Linked DNA regions of Homo sapiens: all the other regions are linked to region 3. The links come from fine-mapping of genetic effects on plasma protein levels. A gene starts in region 3. Each other region holds a variant in brackets. All regions are shown on one strand. Distances are between the middles of the regions. Region 1 overlaps ADAM12 (ADAM metallopeptidase domain 12). Region 2 overlaps ADAM12 (ADAM metallopeptidase domain 12). Region 3 holds the start of ADAM12 (ADAM metallopeptidase domain 12).

What was found. PIP is the posterior inclusion probability: the model's chance that the variant is causal. Protein levels are from antibody-based Olink assays in UK Biobank. Linkage for the fine-mapping came from a reference panel and not from the study's own genotypes, which makes the PIPs less certain.
Region 1: its variant is fine-mapped to the plasma level of the ADAM12 protein (UK Biobank, PIP above 0.99).
Region 2: its variant is fine-mapped to the plasma level of the ADAM12 protein (UK Biobank, PIP above 0.99).

Annotation. Positions count from the first base shown.
Region 1 is chr10:126,251,572-126,259,755 of GRCh38, reverse strand. All of the region lies in intron 3 of ADAM12 (ADAM metallopeptidase domain 12), which reads left to right. Among named protein-coding and RNA genes, the nearest start is that of ADAM12, 130 kb to the left of the region's middle. The variant A/G (reference allele first, on the strand shown) is at 3,732.
Region 2 is chr10:126,034,280-126,042,463 of GRCh38, reverse strand. It overlaps ADAM12 (ADAM metallopeptidase domain 12), which reads left to right. Exons shown (of 23, transcript NM_001288973.2): 19 at 3,035-3,170; 20 at 4,115-4,223; 21 at 6,139-6,318. Among named protein-coding and RNA genes, the nearest start is that of FANK1-AS1, 65 kb to the right of the region's middle. The variant TG/G (reference allele first, on the strand shown) is at 4,099.
Region 3 is chr10:126,384,901-126,393,084 of GRCh38, reverse strand. It overlaps ADAM12 (ADAM metallopeptidase domain 12), which reads left to right and starts at 4,608. Exons shown (of 23, transcript NM_001288973.2): 1 at 4,608-5,027. The coding sequence starts at 4,940.

The sequences.
Region 1 (8,184 bases), 130 kb after region 3:
GGGTTGATTGCCCCGGTTTAGTTCTCAGAGAGTGACTTTATTCCCTCATGTGTGGAGAAGATGTACTTTCTCTCTCTAACCCATGCATGGATGATGAATGATAGCTCAAAGCGTTTGTAGTAGAGAACAAAGGAAATCAGGACATCAAATTCCCACCTAAGTATCAAATATTAGAATTGCATTTTCCCATAGTAAAATATTTTGCTGTGTCAGACCAGATCAGGTGCCTGAGACCTTTTGAGTGAACAAAGAAATGAGTGGCCTTTATTTTTGTTAGTAAGAAAGCATGTGATCGCTCTTTTCAGTAAACAAACTTTGCAAAAATATTGAAAAGAGACTTTTTTAAGCCACAAGGGCTATAGCTCATATTGTAAACGTATTATAACTTTGCAGAGCTTGACTTTCCTCTCAAAGCTCCTTGAAGCTTTTTTAAGAAGGGTTTTTCGTCTGTATCACATTTGCTTGGATATCTAAGAAGGTTATTTATTTCACTAGGTAAATTGAGAGCACTGAGCTGGGAATCTGATAATCCCAGGTGAAAGCTGCACTCTGCCGTGTGAATTTAGGAACTGAGCTGTGTAAGCCTCAGTTTGACGTCTGTTAGATACAGACCACCAAGATCCTACTGTTGTTTTAGGAATTAAATACAAAAATCCATAAAACCATTTACTACAGAGTCTAAGGCATAGGAAATATCCCACAAAGGTTAGCTGGTGCTGCTGTTATAAATTCAACCATTATTTTTGACCTCCTGGTATATAACAAGCATTGAACAACACACTGGGGACACGGTAGGGAACAGGGGGGAAACAGCCCTTGACCTCAAAGAGCTTGCAGGCTAGTGGAGCTGTGAGATGCCAAAGAGATGATCTTACAAATAATGGATTATGCTGTTACGTGCACTGGAAGTGCTTACGGGCATGGGCAATGAGGGAAAGAAAGGTGTCTTGGTGTGGCAGCCAGGGAAGGCCCACAGGCTAGAAGTACTGTCACCTGTGGGAGTCAGCCAGGTGCAGAGAGGAGGAAGAGTTTCAGGCCAAGCAAGCAGTGCAAGTAAAGGCCCAGGTGGGTGAGGAGCTTGTGGCATGGAGGCTCTGGCCGAATGCCAGGGCATGGGCTGAGAGAGTAATAAAAAAGGGAGACCAAGGGGCTACCAAAGACCAGACTAGATCTGGCCAGGTTTCAGACGCCACCCTGCACCAGGGGAAGCCACTGAAGGTTGGTAAGTAGGGCATGGATGGATTGAAATGGGTGTTTTAAGAATGGCTTCCTGAATGAAACAAAAAGTATCAAGAGCAGAGGTCGGAGGCCACTGGGAGACCATTACACTGGTGGGGCGTGTGGGGCACGGGTGGGGCGTGTGGGGCACGGAGGCAGTGGGGATGAGTGAGGTGGAGGAATTTAAGAAATAATTAGGGAAAAATCCTGAATCCAGAGACATTTAGATGCAGGTGAAAGTGATAGTCTAGAAAACTGTGAGATGACTCAGACTCTAATGAGGACAAAGACAGATTGCAAATAAAAGTGTTTTTGTAAGATATGAGAGTGCAGAAAGCAATCTGAATAAACTTATGCTTACATTATTTTAAATGTGTGCCTGAATTGGCCAATTAAATATTGTCAGTAGACAGTGGATTGTTCCCCACTGTGTCCCTAGCATATTATTCTATGCTTGATATATAGCAGGAGGTGAAAATTGAATATAAATATAGGGACACAGATATAAAATGGCCAAAAATCCTTTTGGTATCTTCTCATTGTGAAAATTGAGAGGCCAATTCTATTTGAGGTTGCCAAATAGAGTAGGCACCTATCTTACTAGTTATTTCCAGGCATGGTGCCTGTAAAGACACCACCGTTGTCCAGAAATCCATGACCTCTGGTTAGGAACTCACCTGCTTCTAAGTGCCTGGAGTCATTTGCGCTGCTGAGCCTTTCCTGAGCCCTTGGCAAGGCTGACTGGTTTTATAATTCTAACCTCTGCTTTTATATATTCTTATCTTTATCTTTGTTCTTACCTCTATAAAATGAGGATGGTTATATTTCCTTGCCCATCTCCACGGTTGATGGATGCAAGTTATTTCATGAAGCGATTGTAGTATTTTATCTGCGATGTAAATTTTTATGCGATTGTGTGACAGGTCATATTTCCCCATTTTCCTTTATAGTTGTGGATAGAGTTTTATTTAAAGAGTCAATAAAATGTTTTTCTTTTAAATACAGCGTAGAAATGCATGACCACTTTCGTGCACCTGAGAAAGTTGGTGAAAAGAATAGATTATCACATGCTTGAGAAGTTCCTCTTTGTTCTAAGTTGTATTGAGTCAGATCGAGTTCCTTTGCTAAACTCAGTGCAATTCCTGCATTCTCTCAGCAGCGAAGAGGCCATCTCAATACAAATGGAACATTTTGATCGCAGAACAGAAGACCATGTGCACGTTCCAGGGCTACTTAGGTGTTTTGGTGAGGATTGGGCATACCTGGTGTCTGGGCTTTAGGACATCACTGCCTGACATCATTCCTTCCCGGTACTGTCTTTGGAGGGTAACTGTGTGTGTCATTGTGTTTTGCAGAGCACATGTAGGGTTAGGTGGTTGCTGTCAAGTGAAAGGGAATCCAGGCTGGCAGTACACATACAGGTGGTGTCAGTGTTCAGGGAGGAAGGGGCTGAGAGTGGGCACTGCAGGCCTTATGCAGGATGCAGAAGTGGACTGGGGAGCCCCCAGGTGGCCAGTGGGTGGGCTACTGCTAAGAGTGGATGGTCAAATGCTCTGCAAAATATGAAAAGCTGCAAAACCACAGAAGTCCCTCCATCATCATCATCATCATCATCATTATTATTATTATTCCCATCCAAAGGTGCAGGAACAGTATTTCTTAGGAATATATATGCAATATAGTACTTAAAGAACCAGCCTTTGCAATGTTGGTGTTAATATAAAAGAGATTTCTGGATAAACCTACTATCTCCCCATCCTCTAGGGCTCCTATCTCATCTGTCTCCATTCTTTTGAAGCCCTCCAGAGTGATTCAGGGAAAATTTTCTCCAGTTCCTCTGCTTTTTAGTTGGTATAGTCTCTGCTTCTCTGCACTGGGCTATTGTCCAGATAAATGAAGTAGACTCCTGGATTTGTAGACTTTCTAAGTGGAAGTAGATGGAAGTGAGGATGTCTGCTGGAAGGTAAGCTCCTGAAGGCCCCAGGGCTGAATCCCCACCTCCCAGACCAGAGTCTGACACACAGCGACGGCTCAAGGTAGTAGAACCTCTATCAATGCAGAGGGAATGAAGGGACCTCAGAGATCACTGTGGCCACGTCACCCATTTTACAGATGGAGACTGGAAGAGCAGGGAGGTTTAGACACTTGCCCAAGATCCCGTAGTTGTTGGTAGAGTTAGAAACTAAAACAAAGGGTCCAGGTCATAAACCCAGAGTTGTTTCCTAATACATTGGCCTTCTACTGTTACAGAGCCATAGGACTCTGCATTCATGTTTACCCATTCATTCACAAACTAAGCGTTCATTCATACAATGTGATTGGTAGATCTTAGACCAATGGCTTTCGTTCTGCTTGGACATTAGAATCACCTGGAGCAAAAACCAAAGTTGCCAGGTAGGGGGGTGATTTGATTTACTTTTACCTGGACATAAGTATTTTTCTTAAGTGTCCCAGGTGATCTGCAGAAGCAACAGGGTTGAGCACCACCGTGGCAGACTTGGCTGGTCCTAACT[A/G]CCAGCCGTGGTGGGCGAGTGAAGATATTCCTTTGGCTGGGTGGTAAGTGCCCTGACGAGATGCCCATGGGCACCCACCTCCTTCCCTGCACCGTTCCTGATGCCGAAGGCCCTTGGACAGCCTGCACTAGCTGGATCTGGCTCCGGTAGAGGCGAGGGAAGGATAACACCATAATGACCAGGCGTGTGCCTCGGCTGTCTGCTGCCTCTGTGCAGACATCTCTGAGACTAGCTGCAATGGGGCCAGTTAGCTTTGCCATCCCCCCTTCAGAGTATCATTCAGTTGTCCTGGAGACAACCCTCATGGAGCCAGGTGCTTTGTTGGGGATTCAAAGAAAGGTAAGACGAAGTCCCCATCAGGAGGGACCCTCCGTGGGCAGGAGGAAGTGTGTTTTGATATTAGTATAAAGCGAGGTTGTACTATTTTGTTTAATGCTAGGATTTAAAAATCAGTTTTCCTGGAAACCTTTGCTGTTTGCTTTTTACAAAATTTAATAGTATGGCCATGATGACATCATCAATGTTTAAACTGCCTTATTGGACCCTCCTAGTCCTCCTGCCATGAAGGGGCTGCGTTCTAAGGGTGAGTGTGTGAGGTGGAGCCGTGGGGAGGAAGCTGGGACTGAATGCGAACGAGAGCTGGACTCGGGACACCATCTGAGATTGCCACACACCTGAGGCTTCTTTTTGAGGTACAAAAGGAGCAGTTTCTTACTTCCCAAAGTAAGTCAAAACCTGAGTCTGTTCAGTTCTCAGGCCTCACAAACTTTCATTGAGTGTAGCAAAAGGAAGACAGGAAGAAACCTGTACTTATCACCACCTGACATCAGCCTGAGTGCCAGCTGGCCGGCGACACCACTGGGAGCTGGGACTGCTAGTGTGGAACCCACAGAGGGTGGCATTGCAGGACAAGTCAGCAGATGGGCTCACGACAGGAATGCCCCAAAGCTGTCCAAGCTGACCCCACTTCGGGTGCAGGAAAGCCGTGCTCCGAGGGTGGCCCCTGTCCAAATGCCACCGGGGGCTGGTGACCGGGGCGAACTATGGCCAGAACATGAGACTTCTGTGGTTTGTAAAGGGGGACTGATGTCAGGGAAGAGAGATGGTGCCCTAATTGTCTTAATTATGGTTTATGTCAAGAGAGATGACGTTTTAATGGTTCTAATGACAGTTCCAGGCTGTCAGTACACTCTTAAGTCCTATTGTCTTGAAGCAATTTCTGAACAGGTGAAGAAACCCCTGCAAAACAGAGGGGCCTCCCCAGCGATGGCGACTGTTGCACAGTTCAGAGGAGGCCTGGGAGCATGTGAGCAGAGCGGTCAGTGGCCTTTGTCCTCACTACGGTGGTGGCTCCATGGATGCTCTGGATCCTAGGGAAGGAAGGAAGGAAGAACAGCAGTTCAGGAGGGCCAAGGAAAGGGCCTCCCGCCTGGACCGGGTGTGGAATTGACGCTGAGTAACACACCTGTGCAGGTGGACTCTGTGAGCAAGGCAAGAGGAGATGAGGAGAGCATCCGCAGGGGAAGAGGCCAAGACTGCATCCTGAGAAGGAAGTGTTGTCAGTTGCTCTTGCTGGGGTGAAGCTGACCAGACCGCAGGTTCTTCCTGGAGCCAGTGACAATGCCGACAGCTGACACAGAGGGAGCACATGACTTGCGCTTGGCATTTTCACCTGCATTATCTTGTTTATTCCTCACATCAACCCTATAAGGTATGTGCCATTACTGTCCTTGTCTTCCAGCCAAGGAAACTGAGGCACAGCCCTATCAAATGACTCCCACCAGGTCACGCAGCTGATAGGTGCCAGAGCTGGCTGCAGACCCAGGGAGGCTGCCTGCAGACCCCAAGCTACAAACCTGTTCTAATGGCTGAGAGCTGAACACACCTCCGGAGCCTCCCAAGGGAAAGGAAGGGATGAGCTGGGAAGATGGACAGTGCTGCCCAGGAGGGGACTGGGGAAGGGTAGCAGAGGGGCCATAGGACCTTGGAGGATGGCCACTGAATGGCTCTGACTGAAGATAGCACTGGGCTGGGTGAGCCGGCAGAGACATAGCGCCCTGGAAGTCTGGCCTTCAGCATCCTGTGCTGTAATTGCTCAACTCCAGGTACAGGATGGGGCATGGCAGGCCTGCCAGTGAAGAGAAACGGGGAGGGCTTAGGGCTCACCTCACTCATCCTTGAGGCTTCTCTCATGGAGCCTGTGCCAGCTCAGGCCAGGCAAGAACCGCATCTCATTCCCTGCTTATCCCAGGCTCTGCCCTGGTCCCTACAAGCCCTCTGGGAGGAAGAGTGGGACAGTATGAGGAGGAGAGCAGAAGCCCTCCCCCCACCCAACCCACAAAGATCTGCTCAAGCAAAGTGAGTCCAGGAGCTGTCAGAGGAGCAGGGTTTTCTCTGGGGGGTGGGTGTTCCCCCTCTTAGCCCAAGCTCTGCCACACGAGAAGCAGATGTCTTGTTCTAATCTTCAAGTGGGATGATTCGTGGACACTGCCATTAGCTAGTTTTCTTAACATGAAGAGACAGCTGCTTAGTGGCTATTTCTATGTGGGCTGAGCTCATTCAGTAGAGCAGCTTTCCCCTCTGGAGAACAAGAGAATGATAAGCGAGCATAAATCATGCTAAAAGGAACGACTCCTCATCATGAGTCATTAGGACACATGCCACATTGGCGAGCAGATGAAAAACCTTTGATGAAGACCAGTTGTAAAAGCACAAGCTAATGCTGGAGAAATGCATCATGGTGACTTGAAAGTGTAATATATGCATGCTCACGCTTTCGGTCTTAAAAAAAAAAATTGCAGTAAATGTCAAGAGTGGTCAGAAACCATTTCCTGTGCTGGACCCTGCAGGGAGAGGTTCAGGGAAGGGTGGGTTTGGAAGAATACTTCAAATCAGTGAGTGCTAAGCATATTTTGGCACAGTCCTTCTGGAATGGCATCAGGAATGTGAACCACAGTCCTAAACAGGTATGTCCTGTTATGTGACAGTAGCTATAATAGAACGTCACTTCAGGGTTTCGAGAGCACATATCAGAGCATGGTTGAAAAATCATCCAGAGAAATTCCAAAGAAGACCATGAAGTTGCAAGTGCCACCTTTGTCCCTTTCTACAAGGAGCAGGAGGCAGTATGCCAGGGCTAAGGCATCAGCTCTGCACCCAGGCAACCTGCTCAGTGTCCCTGTTCTACCACTTCATAGCTGTGTGACTGTGGTGGTTAATTTAGGTGTCAACTTGACTGGGTTAACAGACACCGAGAAAGCGGGTAAAGCATTATGTATGGATGTATCCATGAGGAGGGTGTTTCTGGAAGAGATCAGCATTTGAATTGGTGAACTGAGTAAGAAAGATCCCCCGTAACCCAATGTGGGTGGGCACCATCCAGTCAGTTGAGGGCCTGGATAGAACAAAAATAGAGGAAAAGTGAATTTGCCCACTTTCTCTTCTGGAGCTGGGACACTCATCTTCTCCTGCCCTTGGTTGAACATCAGAACTCCAGGTCTCCAGCCTTTAGACTCTGGCCTCCCAGGTCCTCAGACCTTTGGCCTTAGACAGAGTTACATCATCAGCTCCCTTGGTGTTCGGGCCTTTGAACTTGGACTGAGATATGCCACCAACTTCCCCAGTTTTCCAGCTTGCAGACAGCGTATCATGGGCCTTCTTATTCTTCATAACTGCATGAGCCAATTCCCATAATTAATCCTCTCCCATCCATCCATCCATCCCATCCATTCCATCCATCTATCTAATCCATTCTCCAATACATCCATCCCATCCATCAGTCCAATCCATCCATCTAATCCATCCATCCATCTAATCCATCCATCTCATCCATCCCATCCATTGAGTCCATCCATCATCCATCCATCCCATCCATCCACCCATCCATCCTGTCCATCCATCCATCCATCCCATCCATCCATCCAATCCATCCCATCCATCTAATCCATTCATCCCATCCATCATCCATCTCATCCATCCATCCAATCTATCCATCCCACCCAATCCATCCATCCATTTATCCATCCCATCCATCCATCAATCCTGTTCATCCAACCATCTATCCATTCTATCCATCCCATCATCCCATCCATCCATCCTATCCATCCCATCCATCCATCCTATCCATCCCATCCATCCATTGCATCCATCCCATCCATCCATCTGTCCTATCCATCCCACCCATTCATCCATCTATCCTATCCATCCCATCAATTCATGTATCCATCCCATCCATCCATCCAATCCATTCATCCCATCATCCCATCCATCCATCCAATCTATCCATCATATCCATCCATCCCATCCTATCCATCCATCCTATCCATCCATCCCATCCATCCTCTCCATCCCATCCATCCATCCTTCCTATCCATCCCATCCATCCCATCATCCCATCCATTCATCTATCCATGCATCCATCCATCCTATCCATCCTGTCCGTTCATCCATCCAT
Region 2 (8,184 bases), 350 kb after region 3:
AGGCTCAGGGAAGTTAAGTAATTTGCCTAATGTGATCTCGCTAAGATTTACACACACACAGGTCTGCCTGTCCCCCAAGAAGCTCTTAGTAGCAGCTGTGCTTGAACTCGTGGCCATTTCTCCTCGGATGACCTTTAGAAATGGTTTACTGGTGCGGTGCTGTTTTCTCTGAGTTCTTATTGGGCAATTCAGGGGCAAGTCTAAATGATGCCTCTTTTCGAGGGAAAGAAGCAAGGCAGGAAGCTGCAGAGTCCAACAGGGAGCGCGGCCAGGGCCAGGAGCCCGTGGGATCGCAGGAGCATGCGTCTACTGCCTCACTGACACTCATCTGAGCCCTCCCATGACATGGAGACCGTGACCAGTGCTGCTGCAGAGGAGGTCACGCGTCCCCAAGGCCTCCTGTGACTGGCAGCATTGACTCTGTGGCTTTGCCATCGTTTCCATGACAACAGACACAACACAGTTCTCGGGGCTCAGGAGGGGAAGTCCAGCCTACCAGGCACGTCTGCAGAAACAGTGCAAGGAAGGGCAGCGACTTCCTGGTTGAGCTTCTGCTAAAACATGGACATGCTTCAGTGCTGCTCCTGAGAGAGTAGCAGGTTACCACTCTGGCAGGCCCCAGCCCTGCAGCAAGGAGGAAGAGGACTCAAAAGTCTGGCCTTTCACTGAGCCTCCACAGCAGTGGGGGAGAAGCAAGGGTTGGGCCCAGTGTCCCCTTTCCCCAGTGACACCTCAGCCTTGGCAGCCCTGATGACTGGTCTCTGGCTGCAACTTAATGCTCTGATATGGCTTTTAGCATTTATTATATGAAAATAGCAGGGTTTTAGTTTTTAATTTATCAGAGACCCTGCCACCCATTCCATCTCCATCCAAGCAAACTGAATGGCAATGAAACAAACTGGAGAAGAAGGTAGGAGAAAGGGCGGTGAACTCTGGCTCTTTGCTGTGGACATGCGTGACCAGCAGTACTCAGGTTTGAGGGTTTGCAGAAAGCCAGGGAACCCACAGAGTCACCAACCCTTCATTTAACAAGTAAGAATGTTAAAAAGTGAAAACAATGTAAGAGCCTAACTCCATCCCCCGTGGCCATTACTGCATAAAATAGAGTGCATTTGAAATACCGCTGCCTCCACCCTGTTCATACATATATAAAATCAAGGCAGGCCATGAGCAAGCATGGCTCACTGCTCCCTGGCCTGGCCATGGCTCAGGGGCTCATTAAACAAGTACTTGTGTGTCTGCCACACACCAGCCACTCTCCTGGGTCCTGGAGAGACATTAAGCAAGAATGACATGGCATAAGTGAGGGGTACGACTGCAGGGAGAGAGGGCATCATGGGAGGGGAGCAACCCCCACAGAGCGGCAGGGGGTTGTCAGGAAGGCTCCTGGGGACCCTGCATCTGTTGAGGTCTGAAGGGGGCGAGGGAAACATGCATTCTGAAGCCGAGATAGCTGGCTGTGCGAAGATCTAGAGGAGTGTGGACTGGCCTGGGCTCAGATTCTAGAGTGCGGACTGGGCCAACAGGAGGGGACACAGGACACGGTGCTCGTGCTGGTCCTGGGGAAGAGGGAAATGGAGTCAGTCACTGCCCGGGCCTCTGGCTTGAGCAACCCTGGGGAGTTCAGCAGGTTCAGTGTGGGGGCCCTGTAAATGTTCAGTTTCATAGATTGATGTATTGAAGATTTATGGATTCACTTTATGGAACTAGAAATTATAGTTCAAGATTTTTGCTGTTCACTTTTTAAATTAACTTTAATTAACTTTGTTATGAGACACCAGAACTCTAGCTAGAGCCCCCTGTGATCACTACTAAGGGTCTGAAAAGAGTGACATTTTGCCCAGGAAACCAGAAGCAATGCTTTTCCAGTAACACCAACAAGTAAGTCAAGACTGTCATCTGTTGGCTGTCTTGCTTAGGCTAAGACACATCCCTGATAGGCCTTGTTAGTGGGGGATGGGGTCCAGAAACCAAGAAGGTGTGAAAGACATTCTTTCCCTGGAGTAGGAGCTGCTGCTGCAGTGATCCACAGCCAGCTGAGGGTCCAGGTGGGAGGCAGGGCCGAGGAGAGCCCAGGTAACTGCATCACGGCGATCACCAGCAGCCGGAAAGGACTGTTGCACACTTACCTGATGTGAAGTACACCCTGATCCTTGCTGATGGGAAGACAAATGAATCAAGATCCCTGTCCTCTAAAAATTCACTGTCCAGTTGAAATCACAGGTAGACCTCCTCTAAGTCTGAGCATTTAGAGTCCTTCCCAGACAGCCGCTGACCATAGCTACTGTAAGAAACCAACCTGATGGTTTGATTTTTTTCCTTCCTTTCCCTACCCTTGAGGAGGCTCTTAACTGTATTAAACAAAATGGCAGCAGGTCATAGAAAAGAAGATGTTTTCATAGAGAAAATAGCTTCCTCCCAGGAAAAGGGTTTCCCCCACAAAGGCTGTGTTTTTAAGTCCCCAACATAACAAAGCAAAACCCATGGGTGTTTCATTTAAATGAGTTTTCTTTCTCTTTTTTCACTATCTACTTTGAGATGTCCAGCAAGAAAGCAATTCATTTTTTAAAAACACGAAAAGAGATAAAGCAGAACCCAACTACAGAATGAGTAAAGAAAAGCACTTTGGAATGGCAAATCTGTGCTGGGGACTGGAAACATTTGAGCCTGGGGATGGCTGTGATTCCAGTGAGGCTTCAGTGATGGCTCCCTGCTACCTTCTGTGGCTACCATGGTCCACTGTGCCGTTGTCACGCCTCAGGGAACCTGCGTGGTCCAGACCATCACCCCACCTACCCGACTATATATTCCTGTTTAGCAAGTTCTAGAGTTGTCAGAAATGAATGATGGTAACATAGATTGAACCTCAAACATGGCATCTGAAGTAAGACAGTTTATTAGTACATCACTCACGGGTGTACTCTCTTCATTTCTGTTGCTTCAGAGTTCACTTTGCCATAAACGTCACAACTTGATACCTCCCATATTTCATTGTAACTGCCTCCTTCTGTGAGCCCCATGTGTTTTGTTTCAGATAACCAAGGTTTAACCATAGGAATTCTGGTGACCATCCTGTGTCTTCTTGCTGCCGGATTTGTGGTTTATCTCAAAAGGAAGACCTTGATACGACTGCTGTTTACAAATAAGAAGACCACCATTGAAAAACTAAGGTACCCTGGGTTTAGCTTGTCATCTGTTCTAGAAATGGTGGCTCAGAGGCTGGGTGCGGTGGCTCAAGCCTGTAATCCCAGCACTTTGGGAGGCTGAGGCGGGCGGATCACGAGGTCAGGAGATCGAGACCACGGTGAAACCCCGTCTCTACTAAAAATACAAAATATCAGCCGGGCGCGGTGGTGGGTGCCTGTAGTCCCATCTACTCGGGAGGCTGAGGCATGAGAATGGCGTGAACCCGGGAGGCGGAGCTTGCAGTGAGTTGCGATCACTCCACTGCACTCCAGCCTGGGCGAGAGAGCAAGACTCCATCTCAAAAAAAAAAAAAAAAAAAAAAAAAGAAATGGTGTCTCAGAAAATGTACAGCAAACTGCTTCTCACTTCATTTTTTTAGCAAAGGTCAGATTTTCTGGATCATAAACCTGGGACTTGGTTCTTTTTTGGGGGGTTTCTTGTTTTAAATTTCTGCCAGATCAGCTGCCTCCTTTACTTCCCTTCAAACAACAATGTGCTGCTTATTACATAAGCTAGCAGGGTGTCAGGAAATTCCACTGATGTGTTTTCTCCCACCCTTATATTAGTAATTTTTATACAACATGGAGACATTGAAATATTTTCATCAGATGGGGTAGCTTTTGATCCAAATATATTCAAAGACATTATCGCTGAAATGCCAGCTTCATACAAATCATCTTCCAGGTGTCACTACACTGCATTTCTATGGAGCGTGAGAACTAATTTGACAAAATAGAGGTTTTGAGGGAAAAACCAGTATTTATTTTTTAATCTCCTAAGAGTGTTATTAGGTAATTTTTCCTTTGCATGTTTAGCACACTGAGTTAAGTAAACTGTCTTTTGAGTGCCACTATGAGCAAAGTGTAAAAAGTCAAGTCAGTGAGAAGGGGAAACACGCTTGGTCAGCAGGTA[TG/G]GGATTCTGTTGCAGGTGTGTGCGCCCTTCCCGGCCACCCCGTGGCTTCCAACCCTGTCAGGCTCACCTCGGCCACCTTGGAAAAGGCCTGATGAGGAAGCCGCCAGATTCCTACCCACCGAAGGTGAGTCTTGAGTAGATGTGAGTGCTCAGGGCACACATGCAGACATGAGGTTTTCAATACGAGACTGAATAAGAATGGGATCCTAGAGGCGCTGCCTGTGAAATGCTGAGTCAGCCTCACTAGGTCAGCAGGCTCTGAGGGAGGGTCTCTGTGATCTGGGGCCAGAGGGAGGCCCCACGGTGCCCCCATGGAAGCCCACCTAGATCCTGTTGGCGCACTCAGTGCCCCCTGCATGATATGGTGCAGCATAGTGTGAGCTGTGATCCCTTCAGTCACCCAGACCAGCCACATTTCTGGGGCCCCACTGGGTCTGCAGCCCGAGCTGGCTCCTGACACCAGCCCCCAATGCCAGCCCCACCATGGTTTCCAAATGCCACCACCTGGCTTTAGGTGAGCTGCTTTAGCCCACTGTTACTCTTAAAATATTTTTCAAAAGTTACATGGAGCTCTCAGAATTGACCATTTTGCTCCAGCCCTGAGCTGAGGAAGCCCTGTCCACCCTGTGGTTTCAGAGAACTGGATCCTTAACCCAGAGTACCTCACGGCTCCCTGCTGTCTCTTAACCCTCTTGCTACCCTGGTGAATTACAGCTAGAGTTCATTCTAATAGTTCTTCCCCACCGAGTTTTTCTGATGTACCCACAAGAATTCTTGAATATTGAACTTAGTCAACAAGAGTCCAAATTATAACAGTGAACAAGATTGGTGTCAAAAAAAATAAGTGATTGAAAAATCATTGCTGCATATGCAGTAGGCAATAAACTGTTTTAACTCCCTTGATCCAAAAAACGCAAAGGGTGGGGCTCCAAGGAGGAGGCTGCCATTCCCAATAAGCTTTACCCCTGCTCGTCCCCAAAGGTGGAACCATAAGCGAGAACGGCTTTGTGTGGTAGCCAAAAGCACATCTTCATTTTCGTAAAAAAGAAAAATGCAGCTCTATTAAAAAAAAAAAAAAAGCACAGCCTTATTTTTGAGAGCCCCAAACTAGAAACAATCCAAATATCCATCAACCAGTAAAAGGATAAACAATGGTATATTTGCACAATGGAATGAACCATTGATGTATACAACATTGAGGATGAATCTCTAGATAATTATTCTGAGTAAAAGAAGAAAAGCCAGAGTATATACTCTGTGATCCCACTTATATACAATTCTGACAAATGCAAACTGATAGTGACAGAAAGCAGACTGATGATTGGAGGGAGAGGGAAGGGAGAAGCATGACAAGAAAACTCTTTGGGGTGATGGATGCATTCATTTGTCCACTTGTTTGTTGTGAGGGTTTCATGGGTGTAAACACGTCAAAAAATGACCAAGTTGTATACTTTATGTCAACTATACCTCAATTAAGCTGTTTTTAGAAAGAGAGGAAGGAAGGGGTAGAAGCCTGAGGTATAAGGGTCCCTGCAGCACCTGTTCTAAGAACAAGGGTTACCATATGGGAGAACGTCTCCAACTCCAAGCCCCAACCTCAGCCCTGGCTTCCTGAAGCCGCAACTCTCCTTTCCCCAGTGGTTTTCTCAGTTCTCATTGAGCCTTGAACACATTAAGCTGTATCTTATTTTCACATCTCTTTTGTAACTTCCCTAAGATCTCGGTCCGTGTCTTTCTTTATACTTGGTACTTTTTCAAGTGCTTTGCACCTATTTGTTAAACAGTTTTTTAAAATCTAAACAAAAATCGATCCTTCTATTCCAGATTTGGTGGGGTGGAGGCAGGTGATGCTTCTGTTTGAATTTTGAAGTTTAAATAAATACAAAAATAATTCCCCTCTTGTGTACATCCTTGATTTCTTTCCTTTACCCCACCTTGGCCTTCAGCTATAACAGATGAGTTAGCACTGCTTTTTCCTTAAGGAGTTACTGATATTTTTGAAACCCGCTATAGCATGGCTTTTTACTTTGACTGTACAGGACAATCCCAGGAGATTGCTGCAGTGTCAGAATGTTGACATCAGCAGACCCCTCAACGGCCTGAATGTCCCTCAGCCCCAGTCAACTCAGCGAGTGCTTCCTCCCCTCCACCGGGCTCCACGTGCACCTAGCGTCCCTGCCAGACCCCTGCCAGCCAAGCCTGCACTTAGGCAGGCCCAGGTATGCTTTCAGTACTAATATGATAGGATGTAGTTCAAATCCAGATTCTGCTACTTGTTAATGTGTGAGCTTAGATAAGTTGCTTAACTTCTCGGTGCCTCTGTAAAATGGAGATAATTCAGCTACTCAGATGGTTAAATGAGATAATCCACATAAAGCAGTTAGTTTGGTGCCTGGAGTATAATAATAAGAGTGTCATATATTTTAATTTACTAGTTATAATTTTTTAAGTATTTGAATAGTTAGACCACTCATGCAACTAAACGATGACACTATTGAGAATAGCAGAGGGACTAGTAATAATTAGGCCTGTACAGTAAAATAGAGACAGGCAATCTAAGACAGATGGTCACCCTAAGAAGCATCAGTTATACTCTCTCATCATTTTATTTCAAAATTATTTACAAGAACTATACCACCTATATACAGAGTGTCTCCGTACCAAACTTAGCACTGTATTGTTTATGTATATCATCTCATTTTTATGCTGTTTTTGGAAGTAACCATTTCTGTTTGCTGCAATAACGAATGATATTTCACAATAGAAAACTTGAAGGGAGGAGAAAACAAGCAAATAAGTAGGAGATAATCACTGGTAATTTTTCACTGCTATTAATATTTTTTGTTTATAATTGTGTATTTTAACATAATTTATTTGTACACAGTTTTATATGCTGCTTTGTTTTGCCTTAAAAATTAGTCCCATTTACAATGGCATTAAAAATCCTATTTAATAATAACACTATACTTGAATATAAATGTTTAAGTACTTGCAAATTATTGGGCATGTATTGATGTATCATTTTTTGCTGTTAGAAAGTTCTAGAGAGGTAAATCTTGGGACCTCTTTATTCCCCTAGGAGAGATTCTTAAAAGTAAAATATTGGGTTGAAAGATTGTATGACCATTTTAAGCCTCATAATATAAAAATATTTTTTCAGAACTCATATACATTTGCGTTCCCACATTGTTATTGTCTTTCTCACCATGACTTTGCTAACACTAAATTTTAACTTTTACCAGTTTGATAAATACAACAAAATATCTCAATTTGTTGCTGTCTAGTAGTTCTGTCAGTTACCAAGAGGAGATGTTGGACTTTTCCACTATAATTGTGTCTCCTTTGAGTTCATCAGTTTTTGCTTCATGTATTTTGAAGCTCTGTTGTTTGCGATACACACAATTAGGATTGTTGTGTCATCTTAGTAAAGTGACCCTTTTATCATTATGTCATGTCTCTGTTTAGCTCTGGTAATCTTTGTTCTAAAATCTACTTTATCTGATATTATTATATCCACTCCAGTTTTATTTTGATTAGTATTAGTGTTGTCTTTTTGCAATCATGAATGATATTTCACAATAGGAAACATCATTCATGATTGCAGCAAACAGAAATGGTTACTTCTAAAAACAGGATAAAAAGCAAAGTATGAATTTTTCCATCCTTTTAACATACCTATGGAATTACATTTGAAAAGCGTTTCTTGTAGACAGCATATAGATTTTTTCATCCATTTAGCCAGTCACTATATTTTAATAGGTGTGTTTAGAACATTCATATTTAATGCAATTGTTGATATGTTTGGATTTAAGTCTACCATGTTAATATTATTCTGTTTGTTCTCTCTGGTTTTTGTTTCATTGTGCTTTTTCTGTGTTCCTGTAGATTAGTATTCCATATTGATTTATCTGCATTTATGTTTTTGAGTATATATCTTTGTATTTTTTTTGTATGATTACACTAGGGCAGTTTCTCAACCTCAGCATTTTGACATATTGTACTGAATACTCTGTTATGTGGGGTTTTCCTATGCATTGTAGAATGTTTAGCAGCATCCATGGCCTCTATCAACTAGATGGAAGTAA
Region 3 (8,184 bases):
GATCTCGGCTCACTGCAAGCTCCGCCTCCCGGGTTCACACCATTCTCCTACCTCAACCTCCCGAGTAGCTGGGACTACAGACGCCCGCCACCACCCCCGGCTAATTTTTTGTATTTTTAGTAGAGACGGGGTTTCACCGTGTTGGCCAGGATGGTCTCGATCTCCTAACCTCGCGATCCGCCCACCTCGACCTCCCAAAGTGCTGGGATTACAGGCGTGAGCCACCGCACCCGGCCAGCCCTATTTCTTAAATGAAGTATCCTCAAATGTTTGGTCATTCTTGTCATAGTTCATGTTTGTTTTTGAGATTCCCCTTTTCCTTTCGCTGTGTGCTGGCTTTGCACTCAGCCTGCCCCCGCTGATGGCGGGAGAGATAAGCACCTGGTCTAGGAGGCTGTCTCAGCAGCTGCTGCTGCTCCAGGAGGTGTCTGTTTCTCTTAGTACTGTCAGTCACTTGGGGTACGTAAAATGGAATCTGGGGGTGTGTAGGGAGGGGCATAATAAGTTTCCCATCACAGTACAGTCATGAGTCACCAAATGACATTTTGGTCAATCACGTGGTACGCACTTGAGCACTTGTAAGGATGCTCCCATAAAATTATAATGGAGCTTCTCTATCCGGGTGTACCATTTTTTAAAATCTTTTCCACTGTATTTTTACTGTACCTTTCTGCCTTTTTGCTGTACCATTCCCTACAGTATTCAGTGGAGTCATGTGCCATACAGGTTCGTAGCCTAGGAGCAACAGGTTATACCATAAAACCTAGATGTGTAGTAGGCGGTACCACCTAGATGTGTGAGTACACTCTGTGATGTTCACACAGCGACAAAACTGCCTAATGATGCATTTCTTAGAATGTATCTTTGTTAAGTGAAGTATGACTGTCACTTGGTTGGAGAAGTTGACTGGTCAGTGGGTAGGTGACATAGATGAATATAGATGGGGTGACCTTTCCTGTCTCTTGTGACACAGCGCATCCCCGAGTTCCTTGTCCCCAGCCCCAGGAGCATTCTTTCTTTGGCGTTTAGTGCTACTTAAGTGCTAATTCTGTGCAATAATGAAAGCATCAGAGACAAGAGGGTTTAATCTGCCCAGAAGAGGTTCACTGGGGGCAGGTTTCTGAGGAGGTGAAGGCATGGATTCTTGAAGTGAGAGATCTAGGAAAAGAAAAATGGACTACATGTTATTATAATACGCCGAGAGGAGCAGGAGTTTTCATCTCTCCAAGAGATAGAATAAAAATGATTTCCAAGAATCTTAATCTTGGGGTGATCACATTTGTTTACGTTTGGAGTAAGCCTTGGGAACTGTGCTTGGAGAGAGGAAAGCTGTTCTGCAAGCCTGTGTCTGAAGTTCTGTCAATAGGTCACTCTGCAAGGAGGCCGGCTCTTCACTTACTGCAGAAATTAGCAGTGGCTGCCTGTAAATTCCTGGCTTAGGAAAGTTTGTCTCCGTTTTTCATCTGCTTGTACTCAGAGCAGATTGAGCTTACATGAGCTTGGGTAAGAAATAAGTGCCCTGTTCGTTGTGAATGCCCAGGCTGTTAAACGAAAATAGCACACAGGAAACAGTATTGCAAAGGTCAATTCTTCCAGAAAGGAAGGGACAACCAGCCATCTATCTGAAATTTTCGTGTGTAGATCCTGGCCTCTGACCCCACACCATTACCTAACAATCCAGTATTGAATGTGATGTCGGCTTCCATTTCCTGTGAATGAGGAGGCAGAATTTCCATCCAAAGACAGACCATCTGCCAGACGCAGGATTTGCTCTTTGCCTTAGCTGGCTGTTATTGATGTCTATGAAGGCTTTGTGGAGACAGTGTCAGCCCAGGCCGCTTGCTTCACAGAGATGGTGAATTACAGGGTTGAAATCCAGAGCTTGCAGCCAGGATTTTATTTTTCTTCATTTTTCCTCTGCAATGGCTGTTTTCTTTCGTTCAGTCAGAAACAAATCAAGGACAGTCTTGGGGCACATTTAGTTCTTTGGAGGAAGCTTTGCAACATCCAGGTTTAAAAGAAATTGGACTTTTACAGTCAACATTAACAATTGAATATGAAAGAGCGAAAATAAATTGATCATTAAGAGAAAATGTATACAAGGCCCCCAGCCCAGTGCACAGCACATGTTAGGTCCATTGTGAATAAACCATTTAACCAGTCAGAAGGATCCGAGAGGCCAGTGGCTGGGCTCATCTGCAAGCAAATCTGGCCCTTTGAGCTGGAAGAAAACAATTTTTAATTCTCTTGCGTCGATGTGTCTGAAGTTCTATGGGCCACAAGTATCAGGATCACCTAAGTACTTGCTAAAACTTGTCCTTCCCAGACCTTTCTAATGAGAATCTCCAGTGCAAACGCCAGAGGAATTGAATTCTTAACAGACATCCCAGGGATCAGGTGGGTTGGGAGACATTGCATTATTTCACCTGGTGCTCACAACCACCTGGGAGGTTTGTATTTTACCTTCACTTAACAGCTGCTAAAACTGAAGGTTGGAACTCAGCCTTAAAGAAACAGGCTTTATCTTTAACAGATCTGAGGTTGGGCTCTGACCTACTTCACTGTGTGGTGGTGGGAAAGCTACATCTCTATGCTGCAGTTTCCTCATCTGTATATTCAGGACTTAAAAAATGAAATAATGCAGGTGAAAGACGTTAGCACAATACTCCGATTATACGAGGTATGTAATGAATTATGAAGTAGTAAATAGTCTGTTTTCGTGCTGCTGATAAAGACATACACAAGACTGGGTAAAATTATACAGGAAAAACGTTTAATGGACCTACATTTCCACATGGCTAGGGCAGAAGACATGAAGGGGCAAGTCATGTCTTACATGGATGGTAGCAGGCAGAAAGTGAGAGAGAGCTTGTGGAGGGGAACTCCTCTTTTTAAAACCATCAGATCTTTTGAGACTTATCCACTACCATGAGAACAGCACAGGAAAGACCTGCCCCCATGATTCAATTACCTCCCACCAGGTCCCTCCCACAACACATGGGAATTCAAGATGAGATTTGGGTGGGGACACAGCCAAACCATATCAGTAAACAAGCCTAATCATTATTAACTAGGTTAAGTAACTAGCTCACACTGTCCAATAATGATGATTTATCAGTTTGATCAGAAAGAAAAGTCTTTGAAGGCAAGAGGCTTTCTCGTTTAGTTTCCCAAGTTCTAACATAGGGTTGCTCATGTAGATTGACTGAATGAATGAACAAAAGAAGTACACTGCAACGCTGGTTGGTAGTACGGTTAGATATGACACAGGGCTTGAACCAGGCCTGGTTTCCAGATCTGGTACTGAGATATGGCAGCATTGGGAAGGGGGCTGGAGAGCCTGTGCTTCCCACTAAGGTTTTTTAAAAAGAAAGTCCTGCACCTTGTTAGGAGGATCGACCTGGGTTTTGGGAACACTGCAAAACCTGCCGTGGGAGGGAACTCCTGAGAAAACTCCTCTGCAGTGGGAAGAGATGGTATGGAAGGCAGCTTCCTCAAATGCTGGATAACCGCCTCCTAGGAGTGGGTGCTCCGTCAGGAATCGGTGCGAGGTCGCAGGACCAGGATGGAATTTCTGCAGGTGGTCCTAGGTCTGAGCAGCACAGTAGAATCACCTGAGGCTTTGAAAACTATTGAGCTCCACGCATTGTGGGAAACTGAGTTAACTGGTGTCTGGGGCTGGCAATGTCTTTAACTCTTACTATTCTAATAAGTCCCCAAGGTTGGGAATCATGGTAACCCGCAGGGTGGGCATCAGCCATCCTCCATAGCTCCAGCCATTTCTGTCTGTGCGGGCCCCCTCGCTGCTGCTTTTCATGGTCTCCCTGAGGGCCGAGCGAGGCTGAAGAGGTGGGGTCAGCCCGGAACAAGGATGAGAAGGCAAGGCGCACCATTCTTTCATTGGTGTTTCTCCAAACACCCTGGGCTCCCCTGGCCTCACAGCCTGGAGAGTCTCATTCTGAAAGCGTAGGAGGGCGCCCGGGAATCTTTTTAACAAGCCAACCCAGGTGCTTCTTACAATCAGGAAAGTTTGGGGAACGTCACTGTACACCCTTTTCTGGGTCCAGGTCATGGAATGGAAACGTGAGCCAATCTATCAACGTAAAACCTAACACTGTTGATCAAAAGTAACGCCCAGGTGTCTTGTGCCTGCGAGTCCAAGCTTGTTTCTCGGGCGAGAGATGCCCCTTTGGGCGCTTAGGGCCGGGCGGGGTCGCGCGCCGGGCTGTGGGCCGCGGTGGAGACCTGACCCGCACTCCGAGGGTTCCCAGAGAGCCGGGGAGCGAGTAGCAGAGTCATCGTTTCCAGCTTCAGCCTGAAAAGCTGGACCGTGCCGCCGCATGTGCGCTTGGCAGCCGGGCGCCCCGGGCCCTGCGGCCACATCATCCTGGGGCGGGGACGTGTGCGCTCCGGGCGCCCGGACGCCACTGAGCCACGTCTGAGCCGCCCACCCTCGGGGGTGAGCGAGCCGCGGCTCGGGGCGGGACCCTGGCGGGGGGACCCGAGCGGTCTCTAGGACCCGCGGGACGCCGCCAACTGGCGGGGGTGCGGGGGAGACAATAATTTGTTCCGCGGTAATAAGAACGGTGACTGCTGGCCGTGGATCCATTTCACAGGCCTGCCTTCTCTCACTAACGCTCTTCCTAGTCCCCGGGCCAACTCGGACAGTTTGCTCATTTATTGCAACGGTCAAGGCTGGCTTGTGCCAGAACGGCGCGCGCGCGCGCACGCACGCACACACACGGGGGGAAACTTTTTTAAAAATGAAAGGCTAGAAGAGCTCAGCGGCGGCGCGGGCGCTGCGCGAGGGCTCCGGAGCTGACTCGCCGAGGCAGGAAATCCCTCCGGTCGCGACGCCCGGCCCCGGCTCGGCGCCCGCGTGGGATGGTGCAGCGCTCGCCGCCGGGCCCGAGAGCTGCTGCACTGAAGGCCGGCGACGATGGCAGCGCGCCCGCTGCCCGTGTCCCCCGCCCGCGCCCTCCTGCTCGCCCTGGCCGGTGCTCTGCTCGCGCCCTGCGAGGCCCGAGGTAAGTCGCCGAACTAGGGCGGCTCGCTGCCCGCCCCGCCGAGGGCACCGCACGCTGCGCCTGGGCGCGCCGAGGTCCAGGGCTGCCCCGAGGGGCGACGCGCCCCGGCGCATCTCCGGAGCCCCGGGGCTTGCGCTTCCAGCGCGGCGAGACCGACCCCCCCCCCCCAGGTGCCAATTCCTTGGGGAAGGGCGACACTTGGCCCGCAGCCCCACAGGAGCCAGTACCTGCCCCGGAGGGCACAGCCTCGGGACCGCTCCCCCGTCCTCACCCTCTTGGGTGACATTTGCAGATGTCTCTGTATCTTGACATTTACACGTGTCACTCGGGACGATGCGTGTCGGGTCCTCTTGCTGGCCCTATCCCGCAGTGAATATCCCCACCCCAGGCTCCGGGCCAGCCCTTCACCAGGTTTCCTTTCCAGCCCCGCCTCCCCCGCTAACACACTTAGGGGGGCGCGCAGCGGCCCCGCAGGTGAGGCAGCCCCCTCCTCCGCAGGTGTGCCTGCTGCTCTCCACAGCAGGCTCTATTTTCATAAACTGACTCTCTTACCTACTTCTTTAGTTTCCTCTCTGCCCCTCTTCCTGGCTTCCAGGTCACTCCCTAGCTGTCAGTCGCAGGCAAACTTTAGCGGAATTCTCCCTCCTTCCTCCACTCAGTTTCTCCGCCGTAAATAATCGCCCCCATCAACTTGGTGCACAGCGAGAACTTACTTAGTTTAACGTACTTAGTTTTACAGACTTAGGTTTTCCCGAGTTGTAGCCCCTTAAAATCGGGCACCTGTGGCTCCCGTTTGCACAGTGAGGACTCACCCAGCAGGTGCCTTTTTAAAAATCCGGCAACTTCCCCGGGTCTCCGCCGCCGCCGCCTTCTTTCTGCCGCCCGGGGCGCTGTCGGTCCACCGATGAACGACTTCCCTTGGCCGCAAGCTCTCAAGTTCTGTGATTCTATATAACAGGCATTTATTTTTCAACAACTGGCCTAAATCACGAACCGTTACCACTTTATGATACGTTTTATTTTGCGATTGCCACTGCTGCCCTCCGCCCCCACCGCGTCTACTGTAATGTGGCTAAAACCCAGTTCTTGTTAAAAGCCACACTGCGAAGACCAATTCGGGGATAAATGATTAAATACAAAGATTGCACAAAGCAATGAGAAAGTCAAGAAAGAATCCTGCTGAGGGTTTAAAGAACTCTACGACCTGTAGTGAATTGTGCTTTGAAAGACTTTTAAACAAATTGGTCCTTTTGAATGTTTATTAAGAAAGAACTTTTTAAAAAACGGAAAGTGTCTCAAAGTGTGCCTGACATGGTCTTTAACTTGGCACGTGCTTTGTACACATAAAGAGAAGTCTACTGAGCAGGGACAAATTTTTTTTTTGGAAGAAAATGTTTATTAAATCCAGCTAATAATGGGAAATTATTTCTTGTGTGTGTGGGCGGGGGAGGACTTTTACTATTTTATGAGTTCAGCTTTGGTAGAGAGAGTGTTTCCTTAAGACAGATATGACCCAAAATAGAAAACCAGGGAGGCCTAAGCACTTTGAATGGGTTACCTATTGTGATATATTCCAGGATTCACTGCTTGTTTACCCTTAGATTCTCAGTATCAAGTCTTCAATCAATCAGTGCCCCAAATCATACCATTGAGGCCGTATAAAACGCCAAACATATAATGAAACATTTCTTTGCATTGGCAAGAGAAAAGGAGGAATTACTACCTGTTGAGTCTGAGCATATTCTGAGTTTCTCCCTAGCCTTGTCTGTACCCTGAGCCCTGGCACAGTTGCCTACTTGGTACTTTCTGGGGCAACTCGGCCTAACAAGTCCAAAACAGAACCCTAGATCCCAGACTCTCTAGTTGCAAATCATTCCCTCCCCAGCCTTCCTGAACCCAGTAACAACCTCCTCTGCCTTCTCCACATGCCTTGTGCTGACATGCAGGAAGTCATCCCTGTGTCCCTCTTTTTACTCCGTAAGCCACCAACCTCCTAAGTATATTCCCACCTACCCACTTCCTTACATCCCGAAGTGTGCCTTTCCCAGTCCAGGCCACATTATAGGAAAAATCTCTTCTGCAGAAGCCTCTTATCCCTCTTACCCAACGGGCCTACTGGCTTTTCACCTTATCCCTGCATGGTATATTTTCCTCCACAATAGAGCCAAAGTTATTATTTTCAAACATGAGTTAGAGCATTCAAGTTTCCTGTCTAAAACTCCCCAGTGGCTCTCTAGCACCCTTAGGAAAGAAAATCCAAACCTCAGCATGACCTAATTCCTGTTTTCCTTTCTGATCTCCTTTCTTACCATTCTCCCTTTGCTCACCCTACTCCAGACACACTGCCTTCTCTTCTTTTCAACTACCCAATATAGTAGTGCCATCATTAAAAAAAAATTCAATGTTTGCACTAAGAAGACTTTGCAAATACTTTTCACTGTTTTGCCGTGCAGTGTTTTATGGCATTTCATCCCTCTTGTAACTTTTTGCTTTTCCTAGAGTTAATGATTGCCTTGTCTTGATTTTTGTTTGCTTTATTTTCTGTGCACCAAGCTGTGATATTGTGATATAATAAGAAATATGTCTCTGCCCCTGGTTCCTGGCACAGAACTCCTAAAATCCTTGGAATCTCTGGGGTATTAAGAGTGTCTTTTGTATGCTAATGAGCTTGTTAAGGCATGATTAGAGTTGGGACTTTTAGTGCCACCTCCCTTGCAACCTCCAGGGAGGGGAGACGGATTGAAGGTTGACTTGATCGCCAATGGTGTAATTAATCATGGCTGTGTAATTAGGCCTCCATAAACCCCCCAAAGGACAAGGTTTGTAGAATTTCCAGATTGCTGAGCAAATCAAAGTTCCTGGAGGGTGGCGTATCTAGAGAGGACACAGAAGCTCTGTATCCCTTTCCACATTCTCTGCCCTTTGCATCTCTTCCAACTGTTTTTCATCTGTGTCCCTAATTACATCCTTCATTAATATAATAAACTGGTAAATATAAGCAAGTGTTTTCTGTGGTTCTGTGAGCTTACCTAGCAAATTAACTGAACCTGAGAAGGGGGTTGTGGACCCCCAACTTATAGCTAGTTGGTCAGAAGTATAGGTGTGACAACCTACTACTTGTGATTGGCATCTGACATTGGGGGGAAGTCTTGTGGGA